Regions from separate parts of the Homo sapiens genome. Here region 1 is linked to region 2. The links come from fine-mapping of genetic effects on gene expression. Tissue or cell type: whole blood. Region 2 holds a variant in brackets; the other region holds the start of a gene. All regions are shown on one strand. Distances are from middle to middle.

Region 1 (2,673 bases), 41 kb before region 2:
AAGCCCAGGACTCTCCCCACCAACCTTCATCAGCATTAGTATTGACGGGACACTCTAAGGAGTCAAGCAGCCAAATCACCTTTCCCTCCCCTCTCCTCACAGATGCTCTCCAGGGCTACACTTGGACTCCACAAAACACCAAAGAGCTGGAAGCACAGAAGCAGCTTCATAAGCAACAAGGCAGGTTGAAAAGACCGAGACCCAGGGAACACCGAGTCCAGATGATGTAGCCTATAAAATACAAGCCCCCGCAAAAGCTACTATTCTCCAGAGCGTCACCAAGCACGGAGACCCCGAAAGAAAGCAACCCTCACCTTTGTTGGCCCTTACCACTGGCCTAAACCTCTCCCTCTTCCCTGGAGAGCCACTGTGGAAAGACCAAGTCTTAAGTATGTGGGATTCAGAAGGTGCAAAGCTACAGACTGCTCAGACAAGGCAAAGAAAGCTGCCTCAGCAGCACCCAAGCTGCAGAGATGCACAAACACTCCCAAGGCCACAAGGTACCTGTGACACAGGGTGCCAGCCCTGCTGCTGCCTGTAGCATCCTCAAAACTAAATCGCAGCCATCTCCCTGTGACAGATTAGAAAATGAAGGCCTCGGCCTGGCCCAAGGTCACAGCCTGAGTGACAAGCCAGGGAAGGGGGCCGGGGAAGACACTCTGGCCCCAAGGCCCTTCTTTTTGTCGACTTTTCCACATACAAGTAAGTCCTTAAGGCACCGGTTCCTGAAAAGTCCCAGACACCAACCCTCGGCCTAGTTCTGCCGGTGGACAGATCTCAACGATCATACTCGCTCTGACAGGACAGACCAACCGAGCACTTGTCACGGGAGAACACCAAAGCAGACGGCCTGCCCACCAAGGGAGGCAGGCACCTCCGTGCGACGCCCCCTCCCCTCCCGCCGGCCGCAGGGAACGCGACGGTCCTCGGTCGCCTGCGTTTCGCGAAGACGCCCCCGCCCGGCTCCTCCGGGCCTCGAGCCGCGGGAGGCGCTGGACCCTCCGCTCTTTCGCCTCCCGAGCGGGGCCTGCTCCTCCAGGTCGGATGCGTCTCCCACCAGGGCCTGACGCCGCTCCGACCGGCCCGGGGACTCCCAGTCCTTCCCGGCCCGCGGTGGCACCTCCCAGGCTCCCGGCCTCGGCCCCGGGCTCCCAAATGCAGCCACTGCCTCCCTCGGCCAGGCCGCCCCGAGCGACCGGTGCCCCGCCCCTTGAGGCCAGGCAGGGCCAGGGGCGTGCGCCGCCCCGCTCAGACACCCCCCCGGCCGCCCGCGCTCACCGGTCCCGCAACCGCAGCCACCGCCTCCAGCCCCGCCTAGACCGTCCGCCGCTCCCCGCCCGGCGCCGCGGCGCCCCGCGATGACGTTGACGCCTCCCATTGGCTGCTTGTCCGAGGCCCGACGGACTGGCTGCCCAGGGGCGGTGGCCCCGCCCCCGGCCCGCCGCGCATCCGCATTGGCTGTCGGCCCCCGCGACGGCTGCGCGGGAGATTCGCTGGACGATCGCAAGCGCGGAGGCCGGGCGGGCGCGCGCGCCATGGAGCGGCTGCGGGACGTGCGGGAGCGGCTGCAGGCGTGGGAGCGCGCGTTCCGACGGCAGCGCGGGCGGCGACCGAGCCAGGTGCGGGCTGCCCAGGGGCCGAGGGGCTGAGGGCGCGGCCCGCGGCTGACGCGTTCCCTTTACAGGACGACGTGGAGGCGGCGCCGGAGGAGACCCGCGGTGAGCGCGCGGCGGGGCGGCGGGGGCGAGAAGACACCGGGTCGGCAGGGGCCCAGGCCCCACCCTGACCCCGCCTCCCGCTCGCCCACGCAGCGCTCTACCGGGAATACCGCACTCTGAAGCGTACCACGGGCCAGGCCGGCGGCGGGCTCCGCAGCTCCGAGTCGCTCCCCGCGGCGGCCGAAGAGGTACCCAGGCCCCGCCGCCCCAGCCTCCTCCCACTTCCCTGTTTGGCGGAGTGGCGGGAGCCACGGAGTCGCGGCCAGGCCGCCGTGGGGCACAGAACTTGGGAGGGGGACTGGGCAAAGTGAAGAAGGGCCGGGCCTCGCTCCAGGTGCGGGAGGGGTGGCTGGGAGCGCTTCTGCCGCCACAACAGCCTTTTCTGGCCTGTGCCCCTGTTGTCTCCTGCAGGCGCCAGAGCCCCGCTGCTGGGGGCCCCATCTGAATCGGGCTGCGACCAAGAGTCCACAGTCTACGCCAGGGCGGAGCCGCCAGGGCTCGGTGCCGGACTACGGGCAGCGGCTCAAGGCCAATCTGAAAGGCACCCTGCAGGTGAGGAGTGGGCAGGCAGTGAGTCCACGCTAGGTCCACAGCTGCTTCCGGTCCGGGTCGCCCTCTTGTCATTTTTTCCACACAGACAGGCACGGGCCCCTGTGCCAACCAGGGCACGAGTCTTCAGGGAGCTTCTCGGGGCCTTCGCCCTTGACTCCCTTTCTAGTCCAGCCTTGTGCTAATTAGCCTGCTCTACAATTGAGCGTGGGGACTCAGGTAGGTTTTAGAGTCTACAGTAGCTCAGGGGCCTGAGTTCCTCCTGCTGTTCTGTTGTTCCCCTCCCAGGCCGGACCAGCCCTGGGCCGCAGACCGTGGCCTCTAGGAAGAGCCTCATCTAAGGCATCCACCCCAAAGCCCCCAGGTACAGGGCCTGTCCCCTCCTTTGCAGAAAAAGTCAGTGATG
Region 2 (2,618 bases):
AGTGCTCCAAGGCTCCCGGGACGGTGGTCATTGATTTATGCTGGACAAAACCGAGTCATCGCGGGCAACGGGACGGGCGCCAGCGGAATGGGTGGCAGCTTTGGGGGTGGTTTCGGGCCCAGGACAGTGCGGTCGGAGAAGAGCGGTCAGAACTTGGGGAGCCTCCAGCGCCCCACCAAGGAAGCGCCAGTGGAGAGGGGGGTGCCTTAAAACTTACGGGAGACCGGGCGCGGTGTCTCACGCCTGTAATCCCAGCACTTTGGGAGGCCGAGGCGGGCAGATCACGAGGTCAGGAAATCGAGACCATCCTAGCTAACCTGATGAAACCCCGTCTCCACTAAAAATACAAAAAAATTAGCCGGGCGTGGTGGTGGGCGCCTGTAGTCCCAGCTACTCGGGAGGCTGAGGCAGGAGAATGGCATGAACCCGGGAAGCGGAGCTTGCAGTGAGCCGAGATCACGCCACTGCACTCCAGCCTGGGCGGCAGAGTGAGACTCCGTCTCAAAAAAAAAAAAAAAATTATGGGAAAGGCCCGGCCCGGTGGCTCACGTCTGTGATCCCAGCACTTTGGGAGGAGGCCGAGGCCAGTGGGTCACTTGAGCCCGGGAGACCAACCTGAGCAACATAGGCAGGCCCGGTCCCTACCAAAAATTAAGAAATTAGCTGGGCTCTGTGGCGCACGCCTGTAGTCCCGGGACGCTGAGTCGGGAGGATCGCCCTAGCGGGGGAGGTGGAGGCTGCACGGGGCCCAGATCGCACCACTGCACTCCAGCCTGGGCAACAGAGTGAGACCTTGTCTCAAAACAACAACAACAACAAACACTTGTAGGAAAGAACGACGCCTTGCTGACCGAATGGGGTGAAGTGGCCACAAGTATTAGCCTCATGAGGCACAGGATTGTGCAGCCATAACCTAGGGAACACAGCAGAGAGGTGGTGGCAGGAGTCCTGAGGGAAACCACGTGGCGTCTGAGGGGAGAGTCAGAGATAGAAGGAAAAGGGGCACCACCCGACCGGGGGTGTGGGGGGCAGGAGCAGTGTGGTACCCCACATACAAGGCCCCTTGCGGCCCAGGCCTCCTCCT[CCTG/G]GACACTTGCTGCCTGTCCCTCCCCTCCACACCTCAGGGTGTGCTGGACCCCACCGTATGCTGCAGATTTTCAGCCCTTTGAGGTTATCATGGTGGAGGCTGCACAAGAAAAGCTGAATTCTCAGAGTGAAGGGCAAAAGCATATCCCTGGGCCCCCGTGTGTCTGGGGGCCCTTGGCCTGGTGCCAGCACCAACCACCGCTGCTAATTCCCAGAGCTGCTATCCTCTTGGGCAAACTTGCCCCTTGTGAGGGAGGAGAACCTGGGCTTTGGGGCAGGATACACAATACCAGCCTTGCTTGGGTGGAGGAGCAGAGATGGCTAGGGAGGAGGAGGTGAGCGGTCCACCTGGGCTCCTGAAGCAACTCCCAGGAAATCAGTTGAGTCAATGTGTCCCCCTCTTGTTCCTAGGGTGCGGGCTTCATGGCCTTCTCCTCCAGGAAGCTCCACCTGATCATGTCCTGGGTGGATATCCAGCCCCCATAGTTCAGGGCCTACTAGCAGCTGCTAGATCTTGAACTCCAGGAGCGCCCCACGCCTTGGGAGCTTGGCATGGGCTAAATACTCCCCCATTTGTTAAATGGGGTCCTGAAACCTGACCAGGGAAGACGGGATAAAGTAGCCATGGGTCATCGCAGCCCCTTTGAAGCCGGGCCTGGCCACCCAAAGGCAACTCAGGGGTGGAGACTGAGGCCTCAGGAGAAGCCCCCACTAGAATGCTCTCTGCCCCTCCCTTCCAGATTAACCAAAACCTGCTAATTGTGGAAGCCCTCGGCATGCTCCCCTCCCCCACAGCCTCTTCCTCCCTTCCCTCCCCTCCCCCTTCCATCCGAATGATAAAGGCCCCAGCCCGCCTGCCCCAGCCCGGCCTCAGGTCCCGGCCCTGCCTTCTACACTGCCCCACCGCCCTGCACCCTCCACCCGGCCAGGCCCCTGCCCACGCTGTCTACCGTCCCGCATGGGGCCCTGCAGCGGCTCCCGCCTGGGGCCCCCAGAGGCAGAGTCGCCCTCCCAGCCCCCTAAGAGGAGGAAGAAGAGGTACCTGCGACATGACAAGCCCCCCTACACCTACTTGGCCATGATCGCCTTGGTGATTCAGGCCGCTCCCTCCCGCAGACTGAAGCTGGCCCAGGTGAGCGGGCCCCGGCCCCCACTCTCTCTTTCCCCAGACTCGTTCCCCACCCACTTCCAGGTTCAAGCCCTGACCCCCACCCCTTCCTAGCCCACCCAGGTATGCCAGTGGGACCAGTCCTGAGAGCTGAGGGCCTCAAGGCACGACCCTTCTCCGGGAGCCCCTTGCCCTCTCTGCCGCGCTTCCGCGCAGAAATGTCCTTCTTCGGGGACAGCAGGGGCCGGCACCGCGCGCCCCTGAGCCCGGTAGTGGGGGAGGGGTAGGGCGCTACCCCCTCCCCGTCTGGGCTCACGGCGCCGGCCGGCCGCCTGGCGGTTTCAGATCATCCGTCAGGTCCAGGCCGTGTTCCCCTTCTTCAGGGAAGACTACGAGGGCTGGAAAGACTCCATTCGCCACAACC

The links. PIP is the estimated chance that this variant, and not a neighbour inherited with it, causes the effect. A credible set is the group of variants that fine-mapping cannot tell apart.
Region 1: LRRC14 starts here. The variant in region 2 is the best candidate, but not a certain one, in a credible set for the expression of LRRC14 in whole blood (TOPMed, PIP 0.74).

The regions. Positions count from the first base shown.
Region 1 is chr8:144,516,647-144,519,319 of GRCh38, reverse strand. It overlaps LRRC14 (leucine rich repeat containing 14), which reads right to left and starts at 1,328. Exons shown (of 4, transcript NM_014665.4): 1 at 1,279-1,328. It overlaps RECQL4 (RecQ like helicase 4), which reads left to right and starts at 1,487. Exons shown (of 21, transcript NM_004260.4): 1 at 1,487-1,619; 2 at 1,685-1,718; 3 at 1,812-1,906; 4 at 2,130-2,270; 5 at 2,556-2,673. The coding sequence starts at 1,536. RefSeq lists silencers at 873-1,042, 1,133-1,882.
Region 2 is chr8:144,475,183-144,477,800 of GRCh38, reverse strand. FOXH1 (forkhead box H1) reads left to right here and starts at 1,952. Exons shown (of 3, transcript NM_003923.3): 1 at 1,952-2,218; 2 at 2,540-2,618. The coding sequence starts at 2,045. RefSeq lists enhancers at 818-1,711, 2,608-2,618. The variant CCTG/G (reference allele first, on the strand shown) is at 1,085.